Linked DNA regions of Homo sapiens: region 2 is linked to region 1. Evidence: fine-mapped expression QTL. Tissue or cell type: thyroid. Region 1 holds a variant in brackets; the other region holds the start of a gene. All regions are shown on one strand. Distances are from middle to middle.

Evidence for each region. PIP is the estimated chance that this variant, and not a neighbour inherited with it, causes the effect.
Region 2: GBE1 starts here. The variant in region 1 is fine-mapped to the expression of GBE1 in thyroid (GTEx, PIP above 0.99). The same link has a PIP of 0.9 or more in lung.

The regions. Positions count from the first base shown.
Region 1 is chr3:82,071,212-82,081,930 of GRCh38, forward strand. All of the region lies in intron 1 of LINC02008 (long intergenic non-protein coding RNA 2008), which reads left to right. Among named protein-coding and RNA genes, the nearest start is that of LINC02008, 90 kb to the left of the region's middle. The variant C/T (reference allele first, on the strand shown) is at 5,398.
Region 2 is chr3:81,757,126-81,766,378 of GRCh38, forward strand. GBE1 (1,4-alpha-glucan branching enzyme 1) reads right to left here and starts at 4,520. Exons shown (of 16, transcript NM_000158.4): 1 at 4,250-4,520. The coding sequence starts at 4,392. RefSeq lists silencers at 1,193-1,487, 4,069-4,148, 4,649-4,748 and enhancers at 3,799-3,968, 4,309-4,598, 4,385-4,993.

The DNA of each region.
Region 1 (10,719 bases):
GTGGGTTTTAACATCTAAACAATTTTAGTAACTAAATGAAACAGATTTTTTTGCAATTTGACCAAACGCATAAATCAGCAAAGCCAGGTGCAATACTTATTATAAATGAATGATTTTATTAATTTTTAGATCATTAAAACTTTTGCCTTCCAGCAGCTGTCTTCTGGAACAGCTGCTAATACTTATATATAACATTTGTCAGTTTGTTGCATAAATCACATATATTGCTTTAAGGGAAGTTTAAGACATATTAATTATATTATATTCACTGAATGATTAAACTGATTTCAATTTTTTTGAAAGATTGGTAAGATAATTTGTGAATAGAGTTTTAAAAAATATTTGACTACTTATTATTTACATTTTTGTAAAATTTCCTTCTATTTGTGGGCCAAAGTAATTTATCTTATGACATGACTTAGCGTAAACCAAGATGATGATTTATATAACTTGCTTAAAGATAAGACATTAGCAGTTGTATTTATTTCCATGTTTTTTGACATTGAAGGTTAGTACTTACCACGTATGATGCCAACTTAGCAACGATAATGCATTGTCAGTGTGCAATGTGTCTTTCACCATTTAGTTCCCTTCTTTTCTCCCAAGTAGACATCTGTGGTCCATTCAGGGCAGAGCCACTACTCCTGGACCATAATGAGTCACTACTACTGTTCAAATGTCATCCGTTGAGGTGTTGAGTCTGTCTAGTCCCTGAGGTGTTTGAAGGCAGTCCTTCATTCTGCATTTCCTTCTTAGGTGGCTCAGGACAGTTGCTAAGCTTTGCAAAGTGCATGTGCAGTTGCCTTGAGGTTTCTAGGGTAGCATGTGTCTAGAGAGTTGCCAACATTAATTACCAGCATTTTCTGCTTCATATGGTGGCAGGGAGGAGAACTGGGGATTGAGCATGCTAGGTAGAACTTGAAGGAAAAAAAATGCCTTGTACTGTCTGCATATTTAGCATTCTGTCAGCCCCCTGGTCAACAGATCCTGCAAAAACCCCCAAGTAAAGCAAAGATGCAGATGCTCAGGGCTTGGCAATCAAAATCTTGGAATATCTCTAGAGTGGGAGTTGGCTTCATTAACTACTGTCAAATGTCTACCTTCCTAAAACCTTTATTCTGCTTGGAGTTTTACGTAAATGAGGCCATGACTCTTAGGATCAGAAATAAGGAGAGGGAGAAAGGAAAGAAACTAAGATCAATTTAAAAAGTTCATTCTTCGGATGTGAGGATCTCCTCGCCACAACCCAGTGAATTTTCTGAGAATACTTTATGGGGTTTTCAGTATTTTCTGTAAGCCAGTTTTACCAATTTAAAAATGTTTCCTAGTTGGAAAAGTGCATTTTACTTTATTTGAATACATTTTTGGTAAGCTTGTTAAAATACTCATACCTACATAATTTTTTTCTCTCTTATCCATCAATTATTTGGAAGTGAATCTACCTATTCCAGTAAACCCTATCCCATAGATGTTGGTGTTTAATTTTCCTTTTTTATCAAATCATCTCACTAATATTTTGATTTTCAATAGTATTATTAGCATTTTAAAAGATAAGTTCTGGACTCATTTTTTTTCAACACATAAAGGAATCTGTGTCCCTTAAAATTAAAATATTTTCTCTTCTATCCACTAAATGGTCCTTTACATAAAGACCTTGATATTGATAGCCACTCAATTCTCATGTAAACATTTACTAAACATTCTGAAATTTCTGTGTTGACTATATACCTTGATAATATTTCTATCTTTTTTTTTTTAACTGACTCTTCTCTCCCTCAAGGTGTTTCTTATGTTCTTTACATTGGATTGAATCACTTGCTGTGTGAGGGGAGAGAGCCTATCTGCCTGGATGCTGATAAGGTTTCTGGCAGAGTTGATGCTGAACACATGCTTGCTGAGTGGAGAAAAGGGGACACCTTTCCACTATCGTAATTTAAGTAAAAAGAGGAGGGTAGAGACATCAGACCTCTTAATATGTACCTCACTGAGGAGAGAGAATAACAATTCTTTTCTAGGAAAACTAAAATAGTACAGGGCTAGAAAACACTAGTTGAACATTGAAACCAACTAGAAAAACAGGTTCCTAACAGTCATTTAAAGCCCTAGTGAATGTATGCCCCAAGAGAAGAGGTTTAGAAACATTTAGCAAAGCTATACTTTGACTTTACTGAATAAATGAATCTTTAAAAGTAGCCCAGATTTTTATTTTAGCTTCAAAATTTGCCTTGGTTGTCTCATTGGAACCAATTTACAAATGTCAGAATTTGCATTAGAGTGACATCATATGGCTTTAATTAGGTATGTGATTGTTCTGGTCAATGATAATTATGAATTATTAGGTTCTACTCAAGCCAGGGAACTTGGATCTCAATTTCATATTTTAGGGTGAGGAGACAGTAGCAATGCAGTTCCTAAGGACAGAAAGACCAAAGTTTTGCCAGTTTGGAGTACCATGTGCTGTATTTGTAGATTACCTCTATTTTCTAGCTTATACCTGTCATGGAAAAATCAAAGCCCTTTCAGAAATTATACGTAGATAGATTATGCAAGTCTGTCAAATAAATGCCTCCTGTACAGGAAGGTTGGTAAGTTTTTACTTAGTAAAATCAGGAGGCAACTGTCAGAGACAGCACTAACATGGATAAGACTGGGTCATTTAGAGACTCACAAAGAAGACCACTGTCCTCGTTGGGAACTATGACAAAACAATGTCATTTTGTAATATAAATCCACCAAAAACTCATTAATAGATTCTGTTCATGGCCTATAAAAGCCATTCTCTCATTTCTTATTGCTTATGAAATCTCGTTTAAGATATTACATCAATCACATAGAGGCCCTTTGAATTGAGTAAAAACAAGGTCTGGCCTTGTTTGAGGTGGTTTGAGGTGAGCATATATCCTAGTTTTGGCCTGGGAAATAAAGGGGAATATCTACTAGAGTTTCTGGGAAGGTTTATTTTCACGGATAAAGAAAAATTTTGTTTTGCCTTTTATTTCCCACTGATCTGGGATGTGGAATAAGACAATAATGCCTGTTGCAGTGAAAGCCATTTTTTGACTATGAAGTGAGAAAACTAAGGAAGAAAAATCAACATATTTAAAAGGACAGAGAAATAAATTAAAAGACCCCAGTGTTAGTAGTAATATCATTGCTGCCACTCTGGAACCACCTGTCTTCAAACTTCTTATTGTGAGAAATAATTATATCCCTATATGTAAACCATTGACATTTGGCCATTATATTATTTGCAGCCAAATGTATTTTAATTGATACCATTTGTTTACATTTGAACATGCTCTTGTGTGAATAATACGTGCGTGTTTTAGGTAACTATGAAATATAAACATATGCATATCTTCTTTCCATTTTTAGAGAGGGGATTATAGGTTTGGGAAATTTCATATTGTAGAATCCATTGAAGTTGGTGTTATGTAATATTTACTTACAGCAAATAAAAATAAAGTCTATATTATGTAAAATATATAATGTACATGATACTAGTGAACTATAAGGGTGTTTACTTGAACCTGCACTCTGAATGCGTACCATAGATGGCCTTACTGATAAATTATGTCAAAATGACTTCAACTTATCATAACCTACAATGCTCTAATCACATACCGGTCACAAATAAAGTATTTGCGTATGTAACTCTCAAAAAGTCATTATTAATCATTAGGGAACATTAACTGGTACTTTAAATGGAAAATACACTAATGGAAAAAAAATGACTTGCTGTTATTGGTAGCTATGTTGGATTAAAATGCCACTTTTTTGACATTCCTTCTATTAAGATATAGAGACCTCTCCCCTTGAATGCAGACAGATACTGCATTAGTGATGCTGTTTCTGTTTCTGGACCCAGGCCTCAAGAATTGGTGGATTCATTTTCCTTCCTCTGAGAAGACCCTCTTAGGCACTAGATAAGAAATCCAACACCTTGAACATTCTATGTTGTGAAGAAGCCCAAGCTAGCCATGTGGACAGGCCCCAGGGATAGAAAGTGAGAGAAAGAGACCTCCATCAACTCCTAATTGTTCTATTCCTCCCAGCTTAGATACTAGACATATAGGTGAAGAAGTCTTCAAATGACTTCAATTTCGTCTGTCATCTGACTGCAGTCACGTGAAAGACCCTAAGCAGGAATCACCCAGATGAGCCTGTCAACGCTCAGAAACATAAGGAATAATAAATTATTTTAAGTCACTAAGCATTGGGGTAGTTTGTTATGTACCAGTAGATGACTAGTGTAGTGACCAATAACTAATAAAAGAACATTATACTGTGGCAAAATATTTTTACACTTTGGAAAAGAAATTGGAAAGGGAAAACATTTAAATTAAGTTATCCAAATTGGAAGAGTCTGTTTTCTGCCTATCTTCTGGTTCTCTTTGTATATGAATTTATTTTTTAAAAAAACAACATGTCTACTGCTACACAGATTAAAAAGCTGCTCAACATGAGTGGCAATGTTATGTACATAGCCCCATTTTATCTTTTGTCTATGTCCGGTGGATTGAGATGGGTGTGCCTCCTGTTTTAGAATATCCAGTCTTCTTTCTGTCATCCTGATCAGTGATGCAACCAGAAACTTGAACACTGATATAAAGATTTCCTTTTCCTCCTCCAGAAAGTTCTTGCCCTTGAGCAGGATTCAGTAGAAGCCTGCAATATTTGAAGCAGTCACCTAGCAGTTGTTTAACGTGGCTGACTATGCCCTGCAGGCTTATACAGAAGGAGATAGAGCAGGTTGTCAATTATTTCTGCACTCAGGGCTACGGACTAACAATATGCTTGAGTGAGGCAGAGGTTACACATCAGCTGCAATCCCACAGGCAATCCAAATCTGCCATTAATGGTAAGGAACTAAGAGTTTCAACAAGGTTGAGTTCCCTTGGTTGTGAGTTCCCAGTGAGGCAAACTTGGACCAGGATATAACAGTTCTTGTTAAGATAAGTCAGTGCATCAGCTAGAAGATGAACCGGTAGGAATGGCAGCAACATGTCATCAAATTATAGTTCAAACTCCAAGGTCTATGTGTTGTCAGGCCTTTATGACTCTGAGGCCTGCATCTTACTGACAGCACATGCAATCGGAGAGTTCCTGCAGATGTTACTTCCTCTGGAATAAAACTGTTGCATGAATTTACCTTATCATCATCCCAAAGTGTAGCCATTTTACAATGTTAAAACTATGGAAATACCTAATGAAGTGATTAGGGCATCTAATTAGAAGCCTCAGATTCAAACTTTGACATGATTTAGGGTAGTCTGTGGTGAACATATTTGTTAAGTTATAGAATGAAGTGTTGAAGACATCAGCTATAAATATTCTATGTCACCTGTTGGTAGAAAGGACACTGATCTAACAAATTTTTAAGTTAAATTAGTTCCA[C/T]GATAACAAATACTGAAATAGTCCCCAAGGAAAGACCATTTCACATAAATATCATTTATTTTTCTAACCAAATGAAGTCTCCTCTTTGAGAATGCTGTGCTCCTTTATAGCATATTATGGGGATAGTTTCAGTCCACATACTACAGGATGGTCACAGTCCTCCAAGATATTTCTTTTGATCTTTCCCATGGTAGATTAAAAAAAATTGTTTCCTTTTTCACACATTTATCCAGATGTGTGGATAAATCTAATGAAATAAGAAACACAGGTTATTCTACTATTAGATCATATGAAATATTTATCATTTCTCCCCTTCTTGAATTAAAACTCAGTAGAATAGGTTAACCGTGGTCCTACGAAGCCCTACCTTTCTTTTTCACTCATTTGTCTCTCACTCTTCTGCGGTTTTCCTCAGAATCATAAAAGCAGATTTTAACTCATCTTGGAGTTTAGTATATAGTTGAGGGAAAATCATCCCTGGCAGACGTTTTTTTCTTCTGAATTCCTCATTATGCCTTGGCTTCTGGTATTCACAGGACTGGGATTTTGCAATGCTTCCATGAAACACTGGATGGCTCTGAGTTTAGTCTAAATGGGGAAAGGGCCAGGAAATAAACAGGAATTAAAGGAAATGAAAATCACAAGGAACAAAAGCACACTAATATGTTAAAATATTGCTTTCCTCCTTTATCAAATACAGTGAATCCCCTGTAGGTTGAACCTTTCTTCTTTTAGCTACATCCTCATATCATTTTTTTTCGTTTTATTTATTTTTTATTTTTTGAGATGTCATCCGGGCTGGAGTGCAGTGGAGCTATCCGGGCTCAAGGAATTCTCCTGCCTCAGCCTCCCAAGTAGCTGGAATTACAGGCACCCACAACCACACCCTACTAATTTTTGTATTTTTAGTAGGGACAGGGTTTCACCATGTTGGCAAGGCTGCCCTCGAACTCCTGACCTCAAATGATCTGCCCACCTCAGCCTGCCAAAGTGCTGGGATTATAGGCGTGAGCCACCATGTACCCAGCCTATTCATGTCTTTTTGAAAAATGTCTATTTCAGATTTCTGGATAGGGACCTAGGAGGATACTTACACTACATAGGGTGTCACTACATCTTCTCTCCTGGCTATTAGTTTTCTTCTTTACTATTACTATAGAAAACTAAAGCAGTCAACTTTGAAACCATTTTGATAGGAAATTATAGTGGTTAGGTTTATGTGTCAGCTTGGCTAGCCTTACGTCCAATCTATAGTTATTTAATCAAGCATTAATTAAGGCATTGCTGTATTTTGCAGGTGTGATTAAGTGAATAATCAGTTGATTTTAAATAAGATCACCTGAGTGGCCCTGATTCAATCAGGTGATAGGTCTTAAAAGTACAACTGAGGCTTCTCTAAAGAAGGAGTGTCGGCCGTGAGCAGCAGCTTCAGCTTGTGCCTGAGAGTTTTCAGCCTGCCCTTCCTGAAGGCTTGTGAACATGCCTGGCCACCACCCATAATCCATAAGCCAATTCTCTGCAGTAAATCTCTTAATATCTATCTCCCACTAGTTCTGTATCTCTGCTTGGACCCTGTCTGATACAGGGAGAAAGAGTTAATGGGTGATAATGGCTGAAGATGTTGTCTTCCTATGGAAAATAATATTCTTTTTAAATGCTTTCAAGGAGGCTTTAAATGTTGGCCTTATAGGTTCTGTCCTGTACAGTTCTCAGTGGCACCATTTGTATATCTTATGTTTTAAATGCCACCTCCTGAGGATTTTCAGTGTGATAGTTTTGGTTTTAACGCTGTTCCTTGAAGTAGTGAAAGTGTGGCAATTTGAGTCACTGTAGACGTCAGCTGTCTTGGGCTTCAGACACCAGATGCTGTTGATTGCTTCTCTACCTATGCATAAAAGCAGCCCCAGTGTACCCAGATTCTGAAAGAGTATTATTGAATCCATCTATTAGCCAAACTGTGGAGAATGAAGGATGAACCTTGCTCATAAAGAATTGCTGCCATCGAGGTTAAATGGTTGTGTTCCTAATAGCATGACATACTTTAGATGGAGGCCTTGGTGTTTGGAAAAGGGCTGGGTACTGTAAATTAGATTTCCAATCCTGGTATTGGAAAATAGCATATAAGTCATACTGTTCTGCAGGGCTGGTGGTCTAACCACCAATCTAATCATTGCCAAGCAGAGTTGTACTTTCTGGAGCCTCTCGGGGTTACTATTCTTTCAGAGATGACACAAAACATTTACTGAGTAGAATATGTATCTATTTTTTTCCAGTATTTCCTTGCGTTTCCAACTTTCTTTCGTCCTGTCTTTCATCCTCACTTCCTGATTTCTCTTAGTTTCACTTAAGTGATTCAGCAGGGAACTCACAGTTCTGATAAATTATTCTTATAAAAATAAGATTGTTTGGCTTATGATAAAATGACTATACCTTTGTCAGGCCTTCAAAGGAAGTTTTACTTCAGATGTTTAAATGTCAGAGCACCCTATAAAATTATCTAGAAGCACTGAACTGTCCAAAATAATTTTACAAAACCCCCCATCTTTTAAATTCTATCTAACAACTGTCAGTATTGCAGTGTCAGATCACCCAGCGGCATATGTGTGACCTCGCGGTATGCTGTCTTTTTAAAAAGCATGCACTCTTTCGCTTTCCCTAGTCCTTTTCTCCATCTGCCTGCTGACCCATGTGGCTGTTTTAACATCCACCTCAGTGGAAGCCTCATACCTGCCTGGCCAGCAGAAAGTAACACAATGACAGCAGTTTCTGTGGGACTGAAGAGGAGGGGATGAGAAAGCTTGGATGTCCTGTCTTTTTCTGGACAGCTAAAATGAAGATAGAGGACAGCTCCAGGAAAAGTCATGCCCTGGAATTTTCAATCAGCATGCATCGGTTTAGGGAGTGGGTGAATAAATGGGCAATCTATTTCAGGGCAGTTTCCCTTCTGGAAGAAGGGGCAATTTGTTTTAGGGTCACGTGCTGGGTAACTATCTGCATAAGAAACCCTAATAATTTCCAGCACAAGCTATTCACCAGAGAACCTTGTGACGACTTTCTCAGGAAGGTTAGTTTATAATGAATCAGAATCTGTCAACAAACTGATCACGATTGTGTTCACCCCAGTAGTCACCGCAAGTGTGTTCAGGGTGGTAAGTGCTTCCTTTGAGAGTATACAAGATTATTTACAGGCTAATTTTCATCTGAATTTCTTCCACACTTTTTACCATGACATTTAACTGGTATAATTTCTTCATATGATCATGTAGACAGTTATGTTGAGAGACCAAATGCCTCTTTGCTGAATTACATGAAGCAAAACAATATTTTAAAAGGAAACCAGCAAAAATGTTATTTTTACTCCTAACCCCCAAAATGACCTTTTTTTCCGTTAAATGTAGAGAGAAGTAATTTTTTTCATTAGAAAAGATTGTCTTTTTTTTTTAAATAATTGACTGGGTTCAGTAGATGGAAATTATTGACTACATAAGACTATATAAAAGCCATATGGAGGGGGTTACACTAATATAATTAAAATGTATTGATAGTTTTAAAAATACTTAGTCGTATAAACTATCTAATGGGTGTGTTCAAGTCTAAGTTATATTAATGCCAGTGGACGTTACACCAAACATACATGTGGTTGCCAGATTTTATTTTGAGATTTTAAATTTATTAGAACCTCAAACTCACATTAAAGGTCTCGTGTGGTAGAAACAAAGATTCCCTTAAACCTCTGTGAACTGAAATTGCCATGTCTCATATAGCTTTACAGTTTTACACAAGAACACTGTGGCGAGATGAAAGCTATGTTCTGTGACATCCTCTGTGGTATTGTTGTGTCTCCAGCTCTCTACCCTTGAACAATCCTGTTTGGTGACTTCTGTGTCTCTGTGGGTAACTCAGGAAATCTGTCTGATGTAACATCTTGGAAGGCACAACTCCAGGCTAACTGATCAGAAAACACTTACAGAGCTAGCTCAGACTATCAGTTAGCTTTCTAAATCTTCATTATGTTAAAACAGAAAATGTCGTAGTGAAAAAGAAGACAGTTTGTCCCCATATCTCTGTCTCAAAAAGTATGTTTGTTCACTGATGACCCAAGGATTTTTCCTAAAAAATGAAGTTGGTCAAAGGCAATCAAAGACAACTCTTTATTTTGGAGAGAATTCAAACTTTGAGGCAGCTGACTCCTCTCTGTTCAATAATAGCAATCTCTTTAATCAGTGTTAGGTCGATAGTGAAATATTTACTGTGGATGCTTCCAGAATGATTTGAAGCCAGCTCTTTGGAGAGCATTGATAATCTCAGGGTAATCTAAGCCATCCTTACGTGCGGTGTCAATGTGCTGAACTGAACAATGCCTCTGATACAGATCTGTGGATCATAAACAATAAAGAGCTATTTTAAGAGATTTCATATAAAATCACCTCTGACTAAGTACATGCCAGGGCAGATCTCAGTGGGGGAGAGGAGAAATGTGAGATTTTAGAATATCAGTAGTAAAGATCAGAACATGGTAAAAGCCCAATTACATCAAAGTTGAAGGACCTTTAAAAACATATTTTTAAAGTGGTGTGTTTTTTTGTTATTACTATATGTGCTATAACTTTTGCTCTATCTTTTGTTAGCTATCAATATTTTAGCTTTTCCTCTCATTACTAAATGTGCTTCAGCACTTCTGGGACAGAGATTATGAGATTTTCTACATTTAGTTGATCTCATCCTGTGAATTTACTGAATAATTAAACTTCTAGGAAGATACGTTGCTAAAAACAAGTGATGGGTTAGTTTTGACTGCAATGCTGTATAAATTATTGAAGTATATCTCTAGAAAACAAGCTTAATAGCCTATTATAAAGCTTATTTGAATAAAAAGACAAGAACAGTCACTCACAGAGATTGTCTAGCAGCACTTCACAGACAATTGCACAAATTATCTAAAGGTGGCATGACGTAAGCTCCATTCCATTTATAATATGACATAGTTGATATGGACCACTGCTTGCAGAGCCATATCTCAATTATTTTAAATAGAAAACTTTAATAAATGCACTCAATTAGAGCTCAGTTTTAATCAGTTGCAACCTGGGGTAGGCAATGTCACTTTTCAAAGAAGCAAAACCTTCTTTCAAACAATTATGGGACTTGAAAAGATTGTATGCATGGGATGAAGTTGTAATTCTAAAACACTAAAGGTGCTTCTGCAGAAGTATTTTGTAGTAAATTTGCCTGTGCAGCATACAATTGTGAAGAAAAAAGCTTGGGCAGGTTGTGACATGTTACCATTGGAACATTTAGAGGGGGCTTACTAGTAAGTTACAA
Region 2 (9,253 bases), 310 kb before region 1:
TGCATGTGGGAAATGGATATCATGTTTCTAATTTATTTTACTGGTATTCTGGTACCTTTACAGAATGGTCCCCAGAGATCCAAGCTGCCCTCTCCCTTTATGGCCCTCTGGTTAGATGGTACCGAGAGGGAGGCTGAAAAGGTCAACAGGGACCAGATAATGCAGAATCTTCTAAGTTATGGGAAGGAGGCTGTACAGAACTCAAGAGAAATGAGGAATGGTTGAAAGGGTTTAAGCAGAGGAGTACCATGATCAGATTTGTTTATTTCAAAATCCATTCTACTTACTCTGTTTGGAATGAAGAGGAGTGGAGAAGTTAGAATGGAGTGAAGATTTGAAAAAAGAACAACAGCTATGAGGTTGTTTCTGTAAACCATACTAGAGATGCTAGCAACCTGAACTAGGATGGCAGCAGTAGGAAGGCAGCATGCTACATACTTAAAAGTTAGGGGCTACAATTGACTAGACTCAAAGGTCTAGGAGGAGACGGGAGTAATTAGAAATCACTCGTTACCTTTTAGGTTTGAGCAGCTGGTAGAGGAAGATTCCAGACACTGCGATTGGGTTGACAGGGACAAACATGTTTGGAATGAAAATCTGTTAAGTTCAGTTTTATACATGTTGAGATTTGTATTTATAAAACATCAAAATGAAGATATAAATAAGTCCAAGATAAGGAGAAAGATCTAGAGTGGAGACAGATGTGGGCAGCCTCAGTAGATAGATGGAATCCATGGGATGGATGAGAATGTCTAGGGAGAAAATATACAATAGAAATACATAAATGATCCCAGGGAAGAACCTTGAAAATCTCTTACATTAAATGGTCAAAAAGAGGCTGAGAAAATGAAAGAAAAGCAAGATTATGGCTTCAAAGAGCCAAGAAATAGTCCAACATGTACAATGCTAGAGATAAAGAAAAGAGGGATCCCTAAATTATCATGAAGTTGTCTGTGAACTGGTTGAGAACAGTTTCAGTAAAGAAAGATTAATCACAGTTGCAGCACTTACTTATGCCATATATGCTCAAGCCCATCACTTAGTTTCTTCATCTGCAAAACAGGAAAAATGCCCACCGTCTGTCTACCTCATGGTTTTGTTATGAGGATTACATTAAATACCGGATCTGAAAGTACTTTATAAACATTAAACAGAGGGTATAAAGTAGTATTATTAAATTGTGTTGTTTTGACAATGTTCACAAATGCCAATTCTCTGTTTCACCCACATGGCAAGCTGATGGGCACTGGCCAATGTAACGTATCAGCAGAATGGACTCACTGCTAGGCAAAAGCTGTAAGAAATAGTGCATAGTTCAACATGCTTCTCTTTGCACTGTGACCACCTCTACAGAAGCATGTTTCAAAACAAATCCTTCATAAGCCTAGATTTTTGAGTGACTGCCATGAGGAGGGCCCTCTGGCTGACTCATGCTGACATGTAATATGGGAACAATTAAATGTTGTTTTAAAGCACTAAGATTTTGGAATTATAACAACTAATTGTAGTGTAACAACAAGTAAATAACTAAATAAAAGGTAGAAAAATCAAGTGGAAAATGCTATTTTGGGAGGTCATCAATGAGACAACATGGAGGTGGTCAGTCATGCTAATAATGTACTAATTTTTATTTTATAGCAGAGTAACTCATTAATCCTCTACACTTGATTCAAAATTCTCACAGGTACAGAAGGTGAAAAGAACAACTAATGAAGGTGATATGGTTTGGTTGTGTCCCCACTCAGATCTCATCTTGAATTCCCACGTGTTGTGGGAGGGACCTGATGGGAGGTAACTGAATCATGGGGGCAGGTCTTTCCCACGCTGTTCTCCTGATAGTAAGTAAGTCTCACGAGACCTGATGGTTTTAAAAAGGGGAGTTTCCCTGCACAAGCTCTCTTCTCTTGTCTGCCACCATGTGAGACATGACTTTCACCTTCTGCCATGATTGCGAGGCATCCTCAGCCACTTGGAACTGTAAGTCCAATAAACCTCTTCCTTTTGTAAATTGCCCAGTCTCAGGTATGTCTTTATCAGCAGCATGAAAACGGACTAATACAGAAGGGGAAAAGGCCAAGGTAAAGAAGGGAAGGAACATCCAAAACATCCTAAGGGAACATCCAAAAAATTTCAAATCAAAAGATATCTGTTGGGGAAGGATGAGACAGTCCATCAAAGAGAAATTTCCTTCTTCATCACCTTAATTATATACTGTTGTTTGTACCTCAAATTTTCTTCACTCCTTAGTAAGCATACTTTGCACCTAAGTGTTTGACTGGTTATGTATTTGTGTTAGGCCAAAGACACACAGTCCAAATGGATTATCAGAAATAAATGGAAAATTGGACAAGGAACTAAGACCAGATTGTATGAAGGAAAAATGTTTTATTCTTCAAGTGTTAACAATAGAAGTTACCACTAACAAATGCCAAATTACTATTTGATATGCCTAAATGGAACATGTATGCTAGCAAATGGCCATTACTCAGAACCAAGGACAAAAGTAAAATCCGGGTCAGAGTGAGGCATGAGGGCCCACTGGACGAGACTTTTCACCAAGCACACTGGATTCTCTTCCCTTCTTTATCTTGGCCTTTGTTCCCTTCATTAGTTTTGGCAAACCATGAAAGAAGATTATAAATGCTTCAATCCCAGTGGAGTTGGAAATAAAGTACATGAAAGAAACACTTAATAAAGAATGTTAATCTGTTTGTGTCATTTAAAAAAAAAAGGAAGGGGGTGTAGATAAAACATTTCCACAACTCTTCTTTAATAAATATCTTAAGTGTCCTTTTACAAAGCACACAGGTAAATTAATGTCATGGTTACAAGGACATCAAAAAAAAAATCTAACCACTACCTTTAATCACTATCTTTTGTTCTAAATTTTTTCTGACTATTTCTAAATCAAATCCAACCTTAAACCTATGACGATTATGCACTAAGTTTCTCTGAAAGCATATACTGTAAATTCTGAAAACAATTTCACAAGGCTGCTCCTCATATGGTTTATATAAGAGCATAATCATCTGATTAAGTGAGGGACAGCTCAAGGTGATTATTTTACAGAGGCCTCATTCACTACTATATACAAGCTCAAGAATGAAACTTCACATCCCTTACAATCCCTAGAGCAGTGTTTTATTTATAGGAGTTCCTCAATAAACACTTGCTGATTTGAATGCATTTAATACCTGAAAATGCTAGGACACAAACAATTTGCTGGGCTTTTTTCAAACTCCAAATCAACCCATTTTCATTACTCTCAACGCTCCTTCATGCCAGTTAACTAGTTGGATGTTTTCCATCACTCGAAAAATTGGCCATGTATATTCTGTTGCCAGGATAGTTTCCATTCTGCAGTGTCTCTCCTAAAAGGGGAGAAACTATTAAATCAAAATGGGGTAACCTCACAAGTATAACTATTACAACTTGTATAATAGCTCTTTTACTTCAAACAACAACGACAACAGAAAAAGACCTGTACCTTTTTAGTGGAACTTATGAATAGAATTATTAGCCCAGTAACTAAAGTTGTATGGTACACAATGGTAGAAGACAAGCTAAAACGACATTGGCCTGTAAAAGTTGCTTTCCTGACCTTTCTCCCTCTTCAAGATGGTTAAAGTCACACACGGACAAATGTTGATGTACATTTAACTTCTCAATGTTGATCCAAGGGGAGAAAAAATTGATCAATGTAGGTGTAATCTTCCCCTAAATGAGGAATATTAGCAAGGAAAAAACAAAAGGATATAGTGTCTGCCTGAAGGAATCCTCTTAGATATAAAATCACAACATTTGCTATGAAATAAACTAGAAAGTTTTAAATGCGTAATTACACGTGCCAGGAGTTATGCCCACGTTACTCCACAGGCCCACGCTAGTGGGTGCCAAAGTCAGAAAACCTGCAGCGGCGGTGAGTCACTCCCCAGCAGCACTCTGGGGAATAAGTGTTGGAGCCACAGCACGTACCCTATGGCGCAAGACCGCTGATTAGAACAGAGGGGAAAGGGGATGAGGAAAGAAGTTTCTTCAGCGCCCGCTCCGGGCACCAGCGCTGTCAAACCTGCCACTACGGAAGCCACAGAACCCGGTTACCCGAGTCACCCCGAGCCCCGCCCACTCAGGTTCCTCCCCGCCTGGGGCGGGGTTGGCGCGCGAGGGCCGAGGGGCGGCCCGTGTCCCGAGACGGCTCCTGGGAGGCGGGCTGCCTGTCTAAGTGGGGGTGGTGGGATTCCGGCGGTACCTGCGCTGGAAGTCCACGGCGTAGGGCTTCAAGTACGGGTCGATCTCCAGGAGTCTGGCCAGTTCGGGCACGTCAGCCAGGGCGGCATTGAGCGCCGCCTCGTAGTCCTCGGGCCGAGCCGCGGGAGTCATCGGAGCCGCCATATTCCGCCGCAGTCCAAGTAGCCGAGGCCCGAGAGGTCGAGTGGGGCCTGAGCGGGCGCTGGAGCTCTAGCTGGGACGCGGCGGCTAGGGCGGAGCCGGAGGGCGCCTAGGCGTGTCGAGGCAAGCCGAGGCGAGCCGCGGCGGTCCGGGGCCCTTTATAGCCGGGACGGAAGGCCTCCTGCCCTTTCTCCCCCCGCCAGCGGGGAGGAGCGGATCCCGGGGTGATGCCGGGACGCACGTCCGGAGCGGGTAGGAGGCACCGAGGCCTCTCCGCCCACTCACGCGGCTGGCACCTGGAGGCCGCAGGGACCTGCCCTTTCCTCCCCTTAACGGTTTTTTCCTGCTGGCGGAGGTCATTCTAGGAGGTGGGTCCCAAGCTGACCTCGCTCAGCCTTGGCCTTCCTCACCCTGACATATTCTTGGCTTTTCTTTACCCACTTAAGCACCCACTGACAGCGACCCCTTCAAATTGGACATAAGGGGTTTTTTTGGAAAGGACCGTATTTCTCAAAGTTCTGAGACTTTTGAGGGGCAGTATTTCAAACATATCATGTAAATTCACAGAGAGGGGAACAGTCAAGTGTAGCTAGAGTACTACTGCTGAAAATGTTAATACCTCTTACAACCAGGACTCTCCTAAGTTTGCCAGGTCACGTGAATTTAAAATTAACCAAGACACAGAATCCTGGAATACCGTTGGAATTCTGCTGTTCTGGTACTCTTTTCTGCATTACCAACAGCTAAGAATTTTAGCCATGGGAAGAACTTTTCTCATTCTCCGTAAGGCCAAAAAGGAAAAGGCATTTGCCTGTGTTTATAATTGTTAACAAGCTTTTCAACGATTAAACTACCTTTGATAACACAAATGATATCATTGAATTGGAACTCCACTCTGCCACTTACAGTGATAAGGCAAGAAACCTCTCTTCCTCTTGGCTTGGGAAGCTCCCACTTGGAATTCCCTTCTTTTATTGCCATTAACTGACTAGCTTCTATTTCAATAATTGCTTTTTAGGAATACAGAGTTGGACTCCAAGAGAGATGGACCCACCAAACCCAGGAGGGTCCAAGCTGCTTTACACCTAGAAACTAGAGAGGATTGAGGATATTTTTCTTGTTAAAACCCAGAACTGGAGGATCCTAGGGGTTATGGAGGAGAAACAGTATTAATCAGCCGTGGGCCTTGAATTTTAAAATATTTCAAAGGAAAGTTTTTATAAGGGGTTTCATAGACTTGAAAGATAAGTGGATATGAAGACAGACCTCAGTGTGAAAAAGTGAAGGACTTGAACGACTTTAAGACGTGCCTTGTTTTCCATAAAGATGACAAAAAACTGCTGCAGACATTTGTAAAATATAAAGCACTAAAAAAGGAAGAAAATTAAAAAAAAATAAAAACCCGAAGCAGGACAACTATTAATAACAGACCCACAGATCTACATCTCCAAGCCTAAACTTTTTTCAGAAACCCAGGCTTGTATCACTGCCTGTCTACTGAGATTTCCATTTAGCTGGCTAGGAGACCTAAACAAACTGTCTGCAAAACGTGACCTAGAATCCGTCTTCTCATCCTTCCTGCTGTCACTCTTATGCAGGCCACTGTTTTCCTTCACTTGGACCAGAATGTAGCTCTCTAACTGACTTCCCCTCTTCTACTCTTTCTCACCTCTACTCCATTCTCTGTACCAGTGTTTCTCACACTTTAATGTGCATATGAATCACCTAGGGATCTTAATTGAGTTCCGATGTGGTGCTTCAGATTGCATTTTTAACAAGCTCAGAAGTGATTCTGATGCTGGTGGTTGGGGACACAGTTTGGTGAGACTCTACACTGAGTAAATCAGACGATGTCATTTAGCAACTTAAATAGCATAGTATTTCACTTAGGGTAAAATAGAAACAGCTTATCATTCTCTAACAAGGCTTGTATAATCTGGACCCTGACTACCTTTCCAGCCACTTTTCTCATCATTTTCCAGTTTTACTATGCTCTAGTCACACTGACTTTCCTGGAACTCAGTGAATTTGTTGTATAATAGCCTCTAAGATTATTTGCTTGCTGTTCTCTCTGTTGGAAATTTTCAGGGAGCTGAGCTCTACTTGCTTAATTTTTTCCAAGCCTTCATTCCAGCCTCAGCAAAAATGTCACCTCATACCTGAGAAACTTCTGATTATAGACTCCTCAGTGTCTTCTGTATAACTTCAATCTCTTCTATGCAACAGTTAACAGAATCTAGGTGTTTGTTTTTCTCCTATTTATTGACCTTTCCCTTTAGAACCTAAGCTCCCCACGAGCACGATCCTAGCGTACATATCTGCCTACCTAGGTGGTTCACCATTGAGCACATATTTATTGAAGTCCCATGTGCCGGCCATTTTCCCACGTACTGTGGATAAATGATAAGACAAGTCCCAGTTGTCATACTCTATTGGGGGTAGGAGGGAGAGGAGACACAATTACCAGTGAAATACATAAAATAATACAAAACAATGTCAGATAGTGGTAAGTGCATTGTCGAGAATTAAAACTGAGCAAATATCTGTGTTAGTTCCGGTCGTCAAGAAAGGCCGTTCAGAACTGACATTTAAGCTGAAGTGTGATGACAAGAAGAAATGAGCCATGAGAGGAAGAGCATTCCAGAATGGCAGAGTTCGTGCAATGGAGGAATTGAATTGGTCTTTTAAAAAAAAAAAAAAATCTAGCATACCCGGTGTGTAATGAGGAGTGGCAGGAATTGTGGTGCAAGAGCTAGGCAGCTGTTCGTTCATATAGGCCCTTTAATGTCCATTTAAGGGATGCTATTGGAGAGTTTTCAGCAGAACACTGATATGATATGGTTTAATTATTAAAATATTCTATGTGGCAAATGAATTATAAGGATACAAGAATGGCAATAGGGGTGCCATTCTTGTGGGAGACAAGGGAGACAATTAGGAGGTGATTAACATTGCCTAGGCATGAAATGATGATGGCTTGGTCTGGGGTAGCAGATAAAATGATGAAATAAAGATTTGGGATGCATGATATAATGAATGCCTAAACTATTATGAAGTCATTTAGTGTCTGTATTAGTTACCTAGGGCTGTAGTGATTAAGTACCACACACTAGGTAATTTAAGCAACAAAAATTTGTCACCTTACCCTAGTTCTAGGGGCTAAAAATCAAGGTGTCCACAGGTTTGGTTCTTTCTGGGGGCTCTGAAGGAGAATTATTCCATGCCTCTCTCCTAGCTTCTGGTGATGGCCAGCAATCTTTGGCATTTCTTGGCTTATAGTTGCATCATTTGGATCTCTGCCTCCATTGTGACATGGCATTTTCCTGTGTCTCTGTCTCTTCACATAGTGTTCTTTTTATTAGGTCACCAGCCTTATTGAATGAAGGACACACCCTATTTCAGTATGACCTCATCTTAACTAATTATATCTGCAATTATTATATTTCCAAATAAGGTCATATTCTGAGGTAATGTTAGGTTAAGACTTCAGTGTATCTTTTTGTGGAGAAATACAATTCAACCCATAACATTTTTGACACACCAAAACAGAGAAAATATTTGAGAAATAGAGTTTATAAGATTTGGTGACTGATTGGATATGAAAGTGAAAAGGGAATTAAAGATTGAACTTCTGAGCCTGGGGGAATTCTGTCTAGCAAAAATAAAGAAGGCCTTGAAAGAGGGAGAACTAAGTTCAAGGTGTCAGCTCCTGGATACCCAAGTCAATATGGCAGCTGGAAATGTAATTCTGGTGCCTAATAGATCATGTAGGAATGAAGATAACAATTAGAGAATGATCCATATGCGTTTACTAGCTAACGGTGGCAAATAGGAGATCCTCAATAAATATTTTGAAACCTTTCTTTCTTGGTATTTGAGTCTCATGTCACATGTTTGCTTTTCAATAGTTTGCATTACAAAGCCAAAGAGTTACTGATAATGTGCTACATCACAGTTGAACCTTAAAAACATAGCAAGTGAAAGAAACCACTCACAAAAGACCACATATTATATGATTCCATGTATATGGAATGTTCAGAATATGCAAATCTACAGAGAAAGAAAGCAGATTTTTAGCTTCCTAGGGCTGGAGGGCAGGGGAAACGAAGAGTGAGTGCAAGTGGATATGCGATTTCTTCTTGGTACACATTTTCTAAAATTAGTTGTGGTTATGGTTTCATGGCTCTGTGGATATACTAAAAACTAATTGTACACTTTAAATGGATGAATTGTATGGTATGTGAATTATGTCTCAAAGCTATTTTTAAAAAGATTCTGAAGGATAAAATAATACTAAATATGCTTTTTAAAAGGCAAATGATTTATACCAACTAAAGATAAACTAGACTATATAAATATACCTTTTAAAATTACATATCCCCCTCGTTGAAAATCATTAGCAATGAAAAAGAAAATCAGAGAGCAGAAAGAAAAAAGAAGTAACTTTTTTTTTTTTTGAGACAGGGTCTAGCACTGTCCCCCGGGCTGGAGTGCAATGGCGTGACCTCGGCTCACTGCAACCTCTGCCTCCTGGGTTCACGCGATTCTCCTGTCTCAGCCTCCCGAGTAGCTGGGATTTCAGGTGCACACCACCACACCCTGCTAATCTTTTGTATTTTTAGTAAAGATGGGGTTTCACTATGTTGGCCAGACTAGTCTCAAATTCCTGACCTAGTGATCTGCTGGCCTTGGCCTCCCAGAGTGCTGGGATTACAGGTGTGAGCCACTGTGACCAGCCAAATAAGTAACTTTTAAGAACAAGGAGTAGTGTTAAAGGGGAATGTGGCTTCTGACAAGAAAAAGGAGAACTTTCAGAAAAAAAGAGAGTGATCGGTGTTAGCCCTACTATCTTTTAAAATGTGAT